Regions from separate parts of the Homo sapiens genome. Here region 1 is linked to region 2. The links come from fine-mapping of genetic effects on gene expression. A gene starts in region 2. The other region holds a variant in brackets. All regions are shown on one strand. Distances are between the middles of the regions. Region 1 holds the start of HGSNAT (heparan-alpha-glucosaminide N-acetyltransferase). Region 2 holds the start of RNF170 (ring finger protein 170).

Region 1 (8,488 bases), 250 kb after region 2:
AAAAATCTGGATTAGTATTCTAGTTATGAGCAATTATCCTGCAAATTCTGCTAGGCAATGGGAATAAATAGGGTGCCCATCATCCAGAGGTTTCCTTTTGGGAAAGTAAGACCAAGGGAGCTAACCAAAGCCAAGCACCATGCACCCAAATCCTACCAAACATAACTGTAGCCACCAGTTATCTGGGTGTGTCACAAGACATCCTTTTCTCTCCCTTGTTGGAGGACTCAGTTCCACAGTTTTTCCTTAGCATTTGGCTTACGAGAAGGAGTCCATGCAACCCCTCAACCCCTGAGCATAAGTGAGGTCTAGGGAACTCCAAGACTACTGACAGCAGGGGTGATAGGGCATTCATGGGTAGAGGAGATAATTCCCACCCTCTAGACCCCTGCTTCATGGATGCAAGCCATTTTGGCACCCATGGTAGCACTTTCGAAGGTTGCATGGGGATGCAAGGATGGAAGAGGACGCTATTCCTTCTATCCCTCACGTACCCCAGGTATTTGCTAGGAAAAGAACCAGGGATGCCTGCTCCCCTCTTTCTATGTGGGTAGCCATTTATCTTCAGTCTGCACCACTTTCAAATGCATCTGGAACCCTTCGGATTCCTTTGAAAAAATGCCTTCTTTTTTCCTTTCTCCTCCTCGGTTCACAATGACAATCCTAATTGTGTCTCCATACTATGGGACACTCCCCTCAGATGCATTTTCCAAACTGGAAAGAGTTAATTTCCTAAACCTTAAACTGGCTGGCTTAGGATTGGTTTCAGGGGAAGGGAACCCAGAAGCCCAACATGCCAGCAAAAGGGTAAAGTTGTTTACCATTCGGACTTTTGGCCCCCTTCTCCGTGTACAAATTGGTAAAAAGCCTCAGGATTTTTGAGCTGTCCTTATCCCTCCCCTTGTTTCTTTTCTTTTCTTTTTTTTTTTGAGACAGGGTCTCACTCTGTCGCCCAGGCTGGAGTGCAGTGATGTGGTCTTGGCTCACTGCAACCTCCGTTCAAACGATTCTCCTGCCTCAACCTCCTAAGTAGCTGGGAGTACAGGCAGGCACCACCACTGCTGGCTAATTTTTGTATTTTTAGTAGAGACAGGGTTTCACCATGTTGGCCAGGCTGGTCTTGAACTCCTGACCTGCCAGGCTGGAGTGCAGTGGCATAATCTTGGCTCACTGCAAACTCTGCCTCCCGGATTCAAGTGATTCTCCTGCCTCAGCCTCCCAAGTAGCTGGGACTACAGGTACTTGCCATGACGCCCGGCTAATTTTTTGTATTTTTAGTAGTGACAGGGTTTCACCATGTTGGCCAGGATGGTCTCGATTTCTTGACCTCGTGATCCACCTGCCTTGGCCTCCCAAAGTGCTGGGATTACAGGCGTGAGCCACTGTGCCCGGCCATATGTGTTTAATAACCCAGTTTGTCTCTTCTTGCCTTCAGGACATCAAACGGTCATGCTACTGGAAGCTCGGACCATGGCCCCTTCTGCTGGGCACCCTTAGATAGGCCTCTGAGGGAGATCTGATTGCCATTTTCCCGAAACAGTGCCCCCTATCAGCAGGAAGCAGTTAAGATCTGTCTTTGTCCCTATTCTTATCCTAGTGGCAGTTAGATAGACTTCTTTAGAGCGAGGAATGAGCCAGATGGGAAGGGTTCCCTGGTAAAACTCCAACTGGCCTGTGCACTGCTCTGGGGTGGAGCCACAGAAGTTCGCTCCTCAGTTTGCAGCTGGGAGGAGCCTGGCCCTCCTCTTCCTCGGGAGAACCTGGGATTTAATCTGTGAGGTGGGAAGCCTACAACTAGGAGAACTCTGGCTCTGCTGAGTCCCTGTTCCCCTTTTTCTTCCTTTACACCCAATAAAACCCTGCCTTACCCTTCAAATTGTCTGCGAGCCTAATCTTTCCTGGCGTGTGACAAGGACCTCCACCGTCTTTAGCTGAACTAAGGAAAAGTCCCGCAACATTTTCATGTGTGCCTTTGTATTTTTATTACATATATGGATGTCCCTAAACAACATACATTATTGTTTTGCTTTATATATTAAAAAGGCATTCTGCAATTTGCATTTTCCCCAGCCTTGTGTTTTGAGATTTATCCATGTGGATGCGGGAAGCTGTAGAGCACTTCCCCTGCTGTGGGGCAGTTTGTTTTCTCGCTGGCGGACATTCAGCTTGTTGACAAGGTTTTGCAATTACAAGCACCTCTGCTATAGGTATTACTGTACCTGTCCCTTATACCTGCGATAGTGTCTCCCGGCATACAGCCAAGAATGGGTGTGCACACTCCTCGACCTGCTCCCTTCCACTTCGTCAGCCTGGCCGGGGGCTCTTTCAAGAGGTGGGGCCGCTTGGTGGCTTCTAAGTCGTGCCTCTCCCTCTGGGTAATAAACGCCTTGGGGGCAGGGACTTTGCAGTCTTGCTTATTGAGGCGTTTTCCAAAACAGGGACCGAGGGCTCTAACACCCGTGCGGAGGGTGGCCGGCGGGGGCGGGAGTTTGGCAGAATGCGGCTGGAGAAGGTGGGGCGAGGGAAGAAGGCTCCTGGCCTGCAGGGGCCTCTCTTCCGGCTGTTTTTCCTCCCGAAGACAAACACTCCCAACGCAGGGGCGCAGAGCCTCGGCTTCTTTCCTGGCCAGCTCCCTCAAGGCAGGGCCTAGCATGGCCCGGCCCAGCCCCTAGGTTCCCCCGCCCGCGGCTCCCGGGCGCCTCCGCCTCCCGCGGTGACTCAGGCGGCGGTGACGGCAGCGGAGGGGGCGATGACGGGCGCGCGGGCGTCCGCGGCGGAGCAGCGCAGGGCGGGGCGCAGCGGGCAGGCAAGGGCGGCCGAGCGGGCGGCGGGCATGAGCGGGGCGGGCAGGGCGCTGGCCGCGCTGCTGCTGGCCGCGTCCGTGCTGAGCGCCGCGCTGCTGGCCCCCGGCGGCTCTTCGGGGCGCGATGCCCAGGCCGCGCCGCCACGAGGTGAGTGCACACCTCCTACCGCCGCCCGGCCGGCTACGAGCGCAGCGTCTCCTCTCCGCGGCGCCGCCCCTATCTCCGTGCGCGGCGCCGAGCGCTAGGCCGGGCCGGAACCGCCCCCGTGGCCTGGGCTGTTGCTGCGACTTCGCGGTCCCGCGCCCCAGACCGGAGGCCGGACTTCGGGGTGCTGCGGCCGGGCCCCGCGGAGGCGGGGGAGGGGGCGGTTCGGACCGCGGCGGAGTGGAACCTGGGCGCCCAGGCGGCGCCCACCCCAGCGGAGCCTGCGTCCTGGCGCCTTCCGTCTAAACAGAGGCCGCGGATCGGGACGCCGGGACCCCACAAACTGGCAGCCAGGAGGCGGGCCAGCCGAGGATCGGGGGGGCTCGGACTCCCCCTGCACCCAGTCCACTGTTCGGAGGGACTTAGAGCAGGGTCCCTTCCCTGAGGGCCTCGCCCCCGAGGACGTGGCGCCGGAGCCGTGCGACCCATTGGCTTCAGCGGGTGGGAAGCCTGGGGCCGGGACGCGCGTTCGCCCCGCGCTGGGGTTGAACCTGCGTGGATGTGCGGCGGGTGAGGAACCGCGGAGAAGGCGGTGGGGGCGCGGCCTGCAGCCCGGTCCCGGGCGAGCCCTCCGCGCGTCTCCCCTCGGCGCGTTTTCCCTCCAGGGTGACTGGGAAGCCGCCGCCGCCGCCGCCGCCGCCTGGGAGGGGCCGGGCTGGGCGCTTTTGCCCCGGGCCCCGGACCCCGGGCGTTTGTCCGGTGCGCTGGCTTAAGAGGCGCTCAGCTCATACCGTGATTGCACAACTGGCTTGCTCTCCGAACTCGGTGGGGAAAACGGTGACAAATACAGATTCCAGGTCTCCATCTAGACCCCTGCACCGGGGAGCCCCAGGCCCTAGGTCCTTCGCACACGCCCCTCCCAGAGGGGTCGGGCAAGCATCGCAAACCCCTTTGGGTAGGAGGGACGGTGGGAGTCACC[T/C]GTCTTTCCCCTCTCGCGCCCTTTTCTTGGTCAGAATACGAAGTTTTAGTGTCTGTGTATGGAGTTCAAACGACCCCTCCTCTCCAAGCAGAAGCTGGAGGAGAAAGGCGTTGTGAATTTTGGAAAAGCGGCTCAGAGGATTACATTTTGTGCGATCCTTGATCCACCCAACCTTCATCTCCTGCGCTCCCCTCCTTTAAAATTGCAAGGACCCCGGGGAGGTTATGTAATCTGCCTGATCACAATTTGTCAGGGACTGATCCCGCCGAACACTCTTTGCATTTTAGCGCCAGTATTAGCTTATCAAAGGGCACTTACTTTTAGAGAGAGGTGGTTTGTAAATAGTAATCACACGTAGTGAGGGGAAGCCGCGTTGGGACCGCAAGGCTTTCCCTGTCACCTGGAGCCCATGTTTGGGCCGCACAGCTTTCCTACTAAAAACGTCATCATCTTCCTTCTTTTTGAAAATTCAGCATTTGCTTGAAGAAAAAAAAAAGTAGACTATGTCTTTAAAAATATGCCCAGCAAAGATAACTCACGAGCAGAGAGCTAGACCAGAAATTAAATATTTGGAAAGGAAATAAAGGTGTAATACACAAGCAGCACATTTATCCCCGCACCATTGGAAGGTGACTTTATTTGGTAATTTGCCCACCAAGACGAGGTAGACCAGAGGAGAGAGAAGGAAATAATTGTTCTTTTGTCTGTAACGCTCTGGGGGTATTGCCCTGGAATTTCTTAGGTCAGCTGCTGTGTGGGAAGGTGACAGCTTTTTCTTGAAGCTGAACATCAAGCTCAGTTTCGAGGTCATATTTGATGACTTATTTGATGGCTTAGTAATTGGGTCCTTTGGTCGTGTCTGTAAGTGATACAGACTGTTATTATTATTTTTAAAAACCACATTCAAATAATGCAAAGTGAAAAAAAAAGGTGTCAAAATCCGCTGGCGTTACTCTGACAGTCTCTAGCTGTGGTTCCCTAGCTGTGGTCTTCACCCTCGGCTGCACACTCGAATCCCTTTGGGAGGTTCGTTGTTTTTTGTGGGAAATTAAAAAAATCATGCTGATTGGGCAGAGATTCTGATTTAATTGGTCTGGAATGGGGCCAGGGCATTGGTAACTTTTGTAGTTTTTTTAGAGCTTCCTCAGGTAATTTTGACATTCAATGAAGACTGAGCCCCTCTGCACATTCCCAAATAGCATAGTTAGTAACAATGACAATGAAGAGCTTTCAGCCTAAAATTCGTGTGGATAATCTAAGTATAAAACAAGTACCTTATTCCGCCCACCACCAAAGGCTTAGAGAAACATGAGTACACACAGTACTTATTCCATCTACGAAGGGATGATGATGTGTGGAGAAATTACGAAGGAAAAGCTCATGGCTTCATGGTCTCTTGGGTATGATCAAGTGTAGGAAAAAGTCTACAGAGAGTGACTAGAAATGTGAAAATGGAAGCCATTAAAACTGAAGAAGGGAAATGAAAAAGAACTATTTTAAAACGATGACAAATTGACAAAGGATTTAATATTTTTGTCTTTAATGTAGAGAAGTTATGCAAATACCTCAGAAGGTGTCAGGGATTAAATAAAGGTGGTTAAATAAATAAATGATTCAGGAATTAATATGAAAGTCACATACTGATGGTAAACATTTGGAAAACATGTTCAAACTTGTTAATCACAAATTCAAAACTAAAATAATTAGGACGTGCCATTTTCTATCCACCAGGCTAACATATGAGGGAAACATGGAAAGGCTAATCTGGCTGGGCTTATAGGGAGGGATCTGTTGAGGCTCAGGAGACTGGTTAGCCGTTATGTGCACAGTTAGACTGACCTCAGCTTAAATCCTGGCTGCTAGTAGGTGACTTTGGGCAAGCTGCTTGACCTCTTCAGGCCTCAGATGCCTCATCCCAAAATGGAGACACCAGGAGCTATTTCTTTCTTTCTTTTTTTTTTTTTTGAGACAGAGTCTCGCTCTGTCGCCCAGGCTGGAGTGCAGTGGTGCGAACTCAGCTCACTGCAAGCTCCGCCTCCTGGGTTCACACCATTCTCCTGACTCAGCCTCCCGAGTAGCTGGGACTATAGGCACCCACCATCACGCCTGGCTAATTTTTTTTTTTTTTGTATTTTTTAGTAGAGATGGGGTTTCACCGTGTTAGCCAGGATGGTCTCAATCCCCTGACCTCATGATCCACCCTCCTTAGCCTCCCAAACTGCTGGGATTACAGGTGTGAGCCACCGTGCCTGGCCCACCAGGAGCTATTTCATAGGGCTCTTGGGGCCTGGTGGTTCTTTGGTAAGTGTGGTTCTTTGTATTACCTGGGAGATCTCAACCATCACAGTTGTCATTAGAAATCAGCACAACTGAATTGGAGAGAAATTTTGTAATGCATATCAGAAGCTATTCAAAAGCCTGTTTTTGGTTAAAGATTTTACTCTTGGGCCCGGTGTGGTGGCTCACGCCTGTAGTCCTAGCACTTTTGGGAGGTCGAGGTGGGCAGATCACTTGACCCCAGGAAGTTGAGACCAGCCTAGGTAACATGGTGAAACCCTGTGTCTACAAAAAAAGACAAAAAAAAATTAGCTGGATGTGCTGGCATGCCCCTGTAGTCCCAGCTACTTGGGAGGCTGAGGTGGGAGGATTGCTTGAACTCAGGAGGTTGAGGCTGCAGTGGGCCGAGATCTTGCCACTGCACTCCAGCCTGGGAGACAGAGCGAGACTCTGTCTCAAAAAAAAAAAAAAAAAAATTTTAACTGGATGTTCCCGATCCTGAAGAGGCTCTGTTGGTCTCTGCATTGGTTGGATGTGGCCTGGATCACTGTAATGTCTATGTGTTGAGCACTTGTTTCTGTGCCAGCCACTTTGTAGATGGTCAAGTTTAGATTTCCCAACGGTTTCATGAGGCACATACTCTTATGACCCTTAATTTATTGGTGAGGAAACTGAGGCAAGTTGGGCTTCAGATTCAAGTTTAACTTGAATTTATCCCACTATGTCATACTCCAGGTCCCAAACATCGCTTCCACTGAAAGCTTTCCAGGAGACCAAAGAACAGAAAAAATGATTGTGAAAGCTTTCTTTGGCCTAGAGAACCAAAAGCTATAGTGGATTATTATTATTATTATTATTTTGCTGAAAGCTTTATTTGTTCTCACTTAGGGTAAATGAAAAATTTCAAGATTTGGCTACAACTTCATTCTTTGAAAAGTAATGTTTTACAGAAAGAGAGGTTAGGGGTACTGGCTCTGAAGACAAAGCTTAGATTCAAGCCCAGCTTCACCACTTACACCAGTCCCCTGATTTTGCCGTTTCCTTGTGATATAAGGCACTCAGGAACACAAGCCAGGCACACAGTAAGTGTTCAGGAAGTGCTGGCATTATGAAGTTCAAACAGCACCACTGGTAAATGAAGTTCAGATTTCAGAGGTGGAGACTGTGTATGCAGCCTCACAGCTAAGTGGATGCCATGGTGAAATGTTTAGATCATAGGCCTTTGAGAAGAATTATCAGAATGTTAGAGGAATGGGCCTCCCTTGGCACCCAGAAATAAACGTTAAAGGAGGCTATTTCATCATATAACAACTTCCGAACTTCTAGAAAAGTGAAAAGAGAGGCTTGGGTAAGGAAGATGAAAGCCCTCCCACCACCCTGCGTGCTGACCTAGGGCATCCTTCCTTCTACTCTGTTGTTAGATCCTCATGATGGCCAAAAAAAAGCATTCTTTAACCTAAAGCATCCCCATGGCTCAATCTCTACCCCTTCATCACCAAGGAAAAGCCAGCTCTAGTGGATTAAGAGTTTTATACTGCAGGGCTTGTCTTCACTGAGAGCTAAATAAGGGTAAAGTAAGATAAACTTAAAAATGAGGGATTGAGGCCCGGCACAGTGGCTCATGCCTATAATCCCAGCACTTTGGGAGGCCGAGGCAGGCAGATCACGAGGTCAAGAGATCGAGACCATCCTGGCCAATGTGGTGAAACCCCGTCACTACTAAAAATACAAAAATTAGCTGGGTTTGGTGGTGCGTGCCTGTAGTCCCAGCTACTCAGGAGGCTGAGGCAGGAGAATGGCTTGAACCCGAGTGGTAGAGGTTGCAGTGAGCCGAGATCGCGCCACTGCACTCCAGCCTGGGTGACAGAGCAAGACTCCATTTAAAAAAAAAAGAAAGAAAGAGGGATTGAGCTGGCTACGTGAAGAATTCATGATTCTGCCATTCAAATGAGTGACTAGGGAGCCCAGAGGAAGCTTTCCCATTACAAAATAGAGACCGAGTTCTTACCTTCCTCATTGTGTTATTAAGTAGTTCCCCATTTTTTTCTTTTGGGTAAATTTACTCAGAGGATAAATTAACTTCTCTTTTATATAATATCATATAAATGGCCCAGTTGGTTGACATGAACCACTCTGCTTTGACTTTTAGACAAGAGCAGTTCACTTTATTTTTCCTACCAAATTGGCACACGTGATTTTAGAATGTGCGTCATCTTTCTGTCATCCTCAGCACATCATCTAGTGAACTGGTGAGCTGTGTGAGTTTCTGGATTGGGGCATGCTC
Region 2 (8,487 bases):
AATTCTGTTACAACAACTGTGTAAAAGTAAATAAAATTCAAACGTTTTTAGAACCTCCAAAGCACCTTAAGCCTTGAAAGAGATATGACTATGATCTGGGTCACGTAACATGTTTACAATTCTGTTTCTTAGATTTTTAGCTTAACTCTTCCTCATTGTTCTTGTTCTATAAACAACTAAAAAAAGACTAAGTCTTTTTTTTAAAAGAGACCAGATCTCCTCCTTCTAATTGCTGATTTTTATTACAGATTAACTGCCTCCTTTATTGTCCTGTACCTAACTCAGACCAGATGGTGCCCCAAACAGGGGTCTCATGACAGTTACATTCTTTCTTCCCTAAAAAACGCACCTTGACTAATCAGATCATTATAACTGTACATTAAGCCTTACATTAAGATATTAAAATTCTGTTAAATGTCCCTAAATTTTGTCTATATAAACAATCCCAAATGTCTATACTGACGAGCACTGACTTCCATGCTTTTAAATCTGTCCTTTCCCAGGTGGCCTGTCCTCAACCTTTACACTTAAACTCTCTTTAAACTCGATTTTGACCTTTTAAATTATTTTAGGTTAACAACTGTGACTTTATTTCTTCACTTCCTTCTACTGCTAAATTTCTCTGATTCAGAGTTTCGGAATAGAGAAAAAGCCACATCAAAGCTAACATTAGAGTGGTTATCAGTGAGAAGCTGGACTGGCAAAACCAGACCATCACCCTCCCTAGGACACAGTTTCACAGTTTCAATTCTTTCAAGTATGAATTACTTTAACAAGAAAAATAAAGCCAATACTTGCTTCCTCTCTCGATATGCAAACTGAGCTTCAATGCCCGGTCAATGCCCATTCTCATCTACCACCCAGTCGCTCAGTTTCCTGACGGTGCCTACTCCGGAGGCACCTACACTGACCTAAGTGGCATGACTGGCATGTCAACTGCTAAACACTCTCACTACACCACAAATTTCCTTCTTGAAAAACAGATATTGCTCAAATTAATGTTTATAAATTTTTAAAATTTATTTTTTGAGACAGGGTCTTGTTCTGTCACCCAGGCTGGAGTGCAGTGGTGCACCCTTGGCTCACTGCAGCCTCGACCTCCCAGGCTCAATCAGTCTTCCTGCTGTGACTACAGGTGTGCACCACTAAGCTCAGTTAAATGTTTTATTTTTTGTAGAGATGGGTTTCACCATCTTGCCCAAGCTGGTCTCCAACTCCTGGGGTCAAGGAATTTACCCACCTAGGCCTCCCAAAGTGCTAGGATTATAGGCGTGAGGTAGCACGCCCAGCCAAAAATTAATGTTTATTGGTGCCAAATATTTACAGAATCCACAAGTGACTACAGTTCAGTTTTAGAATATGTAGATACTGTGCTCAATTGCTTCACCCTCAAAATTTTATTATTATTAATCACAGAATGTTAAGCACTTAGTTCCAAGCATATAAAGTAATATCTTACTGGATTTATTTTTTCATGTTATTTGGAGGCTCTGTTGCAGCGTTTTTTTTTTTTTTTTTAAACCCTAGATTCAGGCCAGTGCTGTGATTCACGCCTGTAATCACAGCATTTTGGGATGCCAAGGTGGGTGGATCACTTGAAGCCAGGAGTTTGAGACCAGCCTGGCCAACATGGTGAAACGCCATCTTTACTAAAAATACAAAAATTAGCCAGACGTGGTGGCACACGCCTGTGATCCCAGCTACTCGGGAGGCTGAGGCATGAGAATTGCTTGAACCTGGGGGGCAGAGGTTGCAGTGAGCCAAGATCGCACCACTGCACTCCAGCCTCGGTGACAGAACAAGACCTTGTCTCAAAAAACTGCCCAGATTTGATCATTACACATTGTACATATTTGTATAAAAATACCACAGGTACCCCATAAATATGTACAACTATTATACATCTATAAAAATTAAAAATACATTTTTAAAGAATGAATTCCTTTCAGTCAGGAATCATATCTTATTACTGTTAGTAGTGCGCAGGGTCTTACATGTTGTAGTGGCCACTAAAGGTTGTTTACATTAAACCCAAAAACAAGGTTATTAAATGTATAGAACATGGGATGTAATCTATTTCATGGTATCCTGTAAAATATGAAAAGAAGAGTTACTAATACTCGGTTTTGAACTGTTTAAGATTCACAAAAACTGAACCCCATCCATCTTGGAAACTGTGCAGTGTAACTGATAGAAGTTTGCAGAGAAACTGGCTTTGCTATTGCTCAGCTGGCTACATCTTATTGAGCAGTATCTTCAGACAGCAAACAAGCACAAGTTCCAGAGTCAGACAGCCCTGGACTTACATAAAGTTTCAGTCTCAGCTTCCTCATACGTAAAAGGCATTAGGTTGAACCATATCAAACTGCCACTCTTTTTTGGGGCGGGTGTGGCAGGGGAAGTGCTTTGCCTTGTGAAGTTTATAATGAGATAATGAAGGTAAGGCATTTAGCATACTGCTTGGCACATCATATAGGCTCTCAGTAAATGGAAGCTACAGTGTTTGGTTAATATTATTAACAACCGCCAAGGAATCATGATAAAACTAGCCATGTTTTGATATGATAAAAACTAGCCATGCCTGCCCCAGAGCTGCTCCACATAGCATCTCAAACTCTCTTTAATCACAGCTCTAAGTATGTGTTCCCTGGGAAGACAGGATGCAATCTGGAGCACTGTCACACAGGACATGCCCTCTTTAATCTGATAAGCAGCTGTGGGTGAGAACTAGCCTCCAACTAACCGGAGTAACCAGACAGCTAAGACAAGTTCAACTCACCTCTCCTCAGGCATTTCCAAAGCTTTCAGGGAAGGAAAAAAAATAAAACACACAGAGAAAATAGAAAAATAGGAAATTCCGGGACTTCCTGGAACAAAGGAGAGAATCTCAGTGTCTTTTTACCCCAAGGCTTACGTAGAAACTCAGCAGCCACATGGCTTCTGCAATTACTCACATCCAAAAAGTTTTTACTAATTTCTTTCATCAAAGGTAACTGGAATTACAAAATGAAACCTCCAGAACAACGTAACATCATGCACAAAAGCACTGTGGATATGCAGCCAAGCTTGAAAAAGGAGACTTTAGGTCCATTGTGTCAAAGCCTTGAAAACCGGGGCCACTGGAGGAAGGGTGCTCAGGACGGCACAACCACAGTCGCTCCAGTAGGGCCAGCATCTTATCTGCCCATCTAAAGACAAGCTGCATGTGAGTCAGGAGTAAGTCAATGTGACATATACTCACTGACTTCATTCACTTGCCTACAAGATTATACGTCACTTAAAAGTGCTAGAGATTCGACAGAAATAACCTGATAAGGAATGTAGGAACTCTAGTTTGACAAATATCCAGAGGCACCAACACAGGAACCAAACACAGGCGAGACACACATGTGTAATTTTTTTTTTCTTTTGAGACAGATTCTCGTTCTGTCGTCAGGATGGAGTGCAGTGGCGCGATCTCGGCTCACTGCAACCTCAGCCTCCCGCGTTCAAGCGATTCTCCTGCCTCAGCCTCCCGAGTAGCTGGGACTACAGGAGCCCGCCACCACGCCCGGCTAATTTTTGTATTTTTAGTAGAGACGGGGTTTCACCATGTTGGCCAGGATCTCTTGACATCGTGATCCGCTCGCCTCGGCCTCCCAAAGTGCTGGGATTACAGGCGCGAGACACCGCGCCTGGCCACGTATGTGTAATTTCTAAAGGTTTCTCTGCCCTTGGTGTAGGGAAGAATGTTTGAAAAAAAGACCATTGAGAATACTTCAGGTAAGTTTTTTTTTTTTTACACTTACAAAATGCTAAATGATCAGGGGTCAACTATCAAGTGGTACTCTGTAAGGCAACCTTAAAAACTCACTGCTGACCCAGGCTCGGTGGCTCACACTTTTGATCCCAGCACTTTTGGGAGGCTAAGGCGGGCGGATCACTTGAGCCCAGGAATTTGAGACCAGCCTGGGCAACATAGCGAGACCCCCTCTCTACAAAAAATAAGAAAATTAGCTGAGCATCGTGGCCTGCACCTGTGGTTCCAGCTACTTGGGAGGCTGAGGTAGGAGGATCACTTGAGCCCAGGAGGCAGAGGTTGCAGTGAACCAAGATTGCGCCACTGCACTCCAGAACGAGACCCTTTCTCAAAAACCACCATCAACAACAACAAAAAACCCCACTCAATGCTGTCTTGGCAGTTTTCAGTGCTCAATGAGAAAACCTACTCTTAATGGAAAAAAAGTGGGGGAAAGGGGTTCCAGGAACTACAAAGCAAAGTGTGTCTTGGGAAGTTAGCTTTGTTGCACTCCAAATAAAAATTTGGCATTGGGTGGTAGTTATGCATACTCTACGCATCGACAATTCTCTAAGGACTCCAAAGTGCATGTCCTGGAAATTCCAACATATTTGCACTACGTTCCAGGTACACTAGAATGTTTATAGCCATGTTCTGAGTGGCCTCAGTCTGAACAAAATGCCCAACCAGAGTAGAATGGATTCACTGTTCTATTCACACTGGAATACTAGGCAACAATTAAAATTACCTATACATACACAGTACACCAATTTAATACTGATTGAAAACCACAAAACAACACACTGTGATCCACCCGCAAAAGTTCAAAAACAGGCAAAGGAAAACGACATCGCATGCACACATAGATGGTAAAGCTGTAAGGAAATGATCACACTAGTCAGGCTAGGAGACAATCAGGCTCCGAAAGGAGCACAGGGCATGGGTGAGAAACTCCTGGGGTGCCGGTAATGCCCTTTTCGTTTTTATCTGGGTGTTTTATTAATTCTTCTTTAAACGTGTATGTCGTATGCACTTTTCTGCGTATGCTATATCTGTTAAAAATTTATCGGCAGCCCAGCAGACAGATTCGTGCCTCTAAAGAGGTGGAAGCTCCAGAACGATCCGCCTCGCCATTAAGCGAAGGCAACTCCGAACGCTGAGAAACGCAGGCCCGGGGTCGGCCGGTGTCCTTACGGATTGGCGAGCGGGCGCACACCCCTCCTGCATTAAGGAGAGTTCTCAGGGTCACGCTCCGAGCGACCCTAGAGGGAGCGGCGGTGTCCTCGCCGCCGCCAAACCCACCTAGAGCCGCTCTCCGCGTCGGCCCCTCCACCGTCGCCGGCGACTCCGGACAGCCGCGGGGCGATTCTGGGGCTTCCAGACGAGGGAGGGGCCCGGGGGGAAGGAGGCGGCGACTCCCGCCGCCCCGCAGAGCCTCGGCGGCCAGAGCTACCCCAAGAAGGCCAGACCCCGCCGTCCGCGGCTCCGCGGGCCCCGATAGGGTGGGCGTGGCCGCCGCGCGCCGGACGTACCTCTCCACCGCGAAGGAACTACCTCGCCAGTTCCCGGCGACAGAGGACAGATTATTTCCAGGACCGCTCCCGCCACCCCTCCCGGGCAACCCACTAGACGTCCCCTTTCTAATTTGGAGTGCGGGTGCGGGCGCACGCGCACTGCCGAGCTTCCGCGAGGGCGCGACCGGACGGCGGAGGAGGACCCGTCGCCGCAGCCTCCAGGGCGGAGCGCGTGCTCGCCTCGACACGCAGCGAACTGGTGGCGGGGGCGCGCCCGGCGGCAGCGGCGGCGGCGGCGGCGGCGGCGGCGGCGCGGCGGCGCGGGTCGGCCGGGGCGCGAGCGTGCGCAGTGGCTCCTCGGCCTCGGCTCCAGCCAGGGCGGCGGCGCTGGGGAGGAGCGGTGTGGGCGGCCGGGGGCGGGGACGCGGGGCGGCGGGCGTGTCCGAAGTCGCGCGCGGCTGGCGCGCGGTCCCGAGTGAAAGGAGAAGGAGGGGCGCTGGGGGTGACGGTGCGGAGCCGCTGCCAGCGCTGGGCGAGAGTCGGCGGCCGGATCCGAGGAGCAGGCGGGCCTGAGGCCGAGTCAGCTGCGCGGGCCCCCGGATCCCCCGACAGAGCGGCGGCGGTGTCTGGCCAGGCGGTAGGCGCTGCCTGGCCGCGGCGGGGAAGATGTTCAGCGTAGAGTCGCTGGAGCGGGCGGAGCTGTGCGAGAGCCTCCTCACTTGGGTACGTGGGGGCCGCGGGCCGGCGGGAAGACCCCCTCCCCCCGCCACCTACCGGGACCCTCCACGCGCGGCCCGTGGGGCGAGCGCTGCGGGCGACGGTGCCGTCACATCCGGGGCCTGGGGCGGGCGGGGCGAGGAGGCTCGGCCCAGGGTCCGAGAGAGACTTGCCGGGCCTGAGGCGTCGCTGTTCCGGGCGGACCCCGGCCGGGGCTGGGCTGGGAACGCGGCGGGCGACTCTGGGATCCGTGCGGCTGCTCGCAGCTGGGGCTGCGCTGCGCTCTGGGGGTGGCCGAGCCTGACTGCCCCGCGTCCAGGACCCGCCGCCGCTCCTCGCCTTTGTTGCCGCGTTCGCGGAGGACGGGCCCGGCTCCGGCCCGGGAACTGAAAGGACCTGTGAGGGAGCGTGGGGAGAATGCGGGAGGCGCCCGGGGACCCCGTTTCGGATGCAAGGCACCGCTGGCGGTGGGAGTGCGCGAGGGGCGGACGCCTGTCAGAGGCGTCGGGCAGACGTTTAAAGGAGTCTGGAGGTGTCTGGGCGTCAACAATGGAACTCGAAGGCCTTGGGGGACAGAGTCGTGGGATTCTGATTTTGAATTCTTAAACGGTTTTAGATTCCTCATACTTTGAAGTAAATACATGTTCACCTCTCACGTCAGCTGCCGCGCCTTCCTGAAGCCGGGTCTTCAGGACGCGGCAGGGGAACCGACGCCCGGGTTCCAGTCGTTCTCGCCGCGGCGCGGCCGGGGAGGGGGAGGGATGCGCAGAGCCCGGGCGGACCCCGCGCTGCCTTCGGGAGCCTCCGTTTCACTCATTGCTGAGAATGTTAATTAAATGTTTACGGATGTGTTTATGAAGGCTACTACAGCATTTGTATTACTTTTAAAGGTAAAACACGAATGTGAGAGAAATTCTCTTTAGCGGTGTCTTGGGTTACGAGTCAGGATCCCTGGAGTGTAGACGTCACGATCCTGTGCAAGGCACTTTGCTGGAAAGGCTGGAGAAGTATTGCCTTACGTTGGTTGTTAAAAAAATTAATAAAAATAGTCTGAGGTTTTTATAGTTTGGCTACGTCACGAATCAATTTCTGTCCTCTGAAACAGACTTGGTAGAGCTTGAGTAGCCAGTTGCATATCAGACCATTTAGGGGATTTCAGATCGTTAGCAGTAGTATGTAGTTAGCGTGCAGCTTACCCTTCTGATGAGTTCTCCCTCCAGGCAAGGAGATGGCTTTCACTGCTGTATTTCAGAAAAGAGGAAGACTGGTAAGTTGTATAATGTGGCTGAGGTTTCTGACTAGGCAGGGGAGAGAGAGAGAGGAAAGAATTACTAAATTCTTTGATGTTGTGGAAGGAATAGATTTGGCAGAATCTGTACATCTGTAAACAGAATGCTGAGGAACTTAAGATTTAAGTTTTTGAGACTGTGCAAGTAGTGCTTCCCTTTATGCTAGAAGAAGCAGCCAGAAGGCAAAGATGAAGCTAATTGAATCTAAGTAGGGCTACATTGTTTAAAATCTAGGGAGAAAGAAGACATGGAAATAAAGAGGTGTACAGAGGCTCCTTAACTTGCGATGGGGTTACATCCCGGTAAACCCATCATAAGTTGAAAATACCGTAAGTTGAAAATGCATTTCATACGCCTAACCGTCCAAACGGTAGCTTAGCTTGGTCTACCTTAAACGTGCTCAGAACACTTACCTTAGCCTACAATTGGGCAAAATCATCTACCACAAAACGTGTTTTATAATAAATTGTTGAATATCTAATGCAATTTATTGAACACTGTACTGAAAATGAAAAATATAATGGTTGTATGGGCACTCAGAGTATGGTTTCTACTGAATGTGTATCTTGCATCATTGTAAAGTTGAAAAGTCTTAAGTTAAACCATCCTAAGTTGGGGACCGTCTGTATTTGAAGGGTATCCACAAAATATGGTAGGTAGTAATTGCATTTATTTAAGTGAGAAATGCTGATAAAAATATACAGGAGAAATCTTAGAAGTTTGAAGGCCTGCTGACAGAACCTGACAACATGAGAGAATCTATTTAGAATCTCCTAAAATGTCAAGAAAACGAGTAATCCACATTATCAGCTGTAGAGAGGTCAGGGAGTATAGTATTGTAGAATAGGCTTTTTGAAATGTCACTGGAAACTCATCAATGAGAATTTCTGGATAAGATTAGAGATTATCAGTGACAAAATTGGAGGGCAGTGTTCATGAAGATGTACAGTTCTAAAATTTGGAAACACTTTAAAAGACATGTTTCAAAATAGAGTTTAAATGCTGGGTTTGTTCTCTTTTAGCTGTCATTATAAAAAGCAGAATAAATGTTTCAATGAGCAATGTTTGATGACATTTAAATGTATAATATCACCCCTCCTATCTGTAAGCCAGATTAATGCTAAGCACAATTCTAAAACCAAATGCAAGCAAAAATGTACACATACACTCCAAAGAAAAGACTCATTTA

What was found. PIP is the estimated chance that this variant, and not a neighbour inherited with it, causes the effect.
Region 1: its variant is fine-mapped to the expression of RNF170 in whole blood (TOPMed, PIP 0.98).

What each region holds. Positions count from the first base shown.
Region 1 is chr8:43,137,664-43,146,151 of GRCh38, forward strand. It overlaps HGSNAT (heparan-alpha-glucosaminide N-acetyltransferase), which reads left to right and starts at 2,801. Exons shown (of 18, transcript NM_152419.3): 1 at 2,801-2,951. The coding sequence starts at 2,834. RefSeq lists an enhancer at 1,463-1,757 and silencers at 2,601-3,390, 3,401-3,780, 5,979-6,028. The variant T/C (reference allele first, on the strand shown) is at 3,928.
Region 2 is chr8:42,891,174-42,899,660 of GRCh38, forward strand. It overlaps RNF170 (ring finger protein 170), which reads right to left and starts at 5,432. Exons shown (of 7, transcript NM_030954.4): 1 at 5,311-5,432. HOOK3 (hook microtubule tethering protein 3) reads left to right here and starts at 5,805. Exons shown (of 22, transcript NM_032410.4): 1 at 5,805-6,015. The coding sequence starts at 5,959. MIR4469 (microRNA 4469) reads right to left here and starts at 5,102; the gene lies at 5,024-5,102. RefSeq lists an enhancer at 4,549-5,110 and silencers at 5,017-5,228, 5,024-5,383, 5,564-6,353, 6,364-6,423.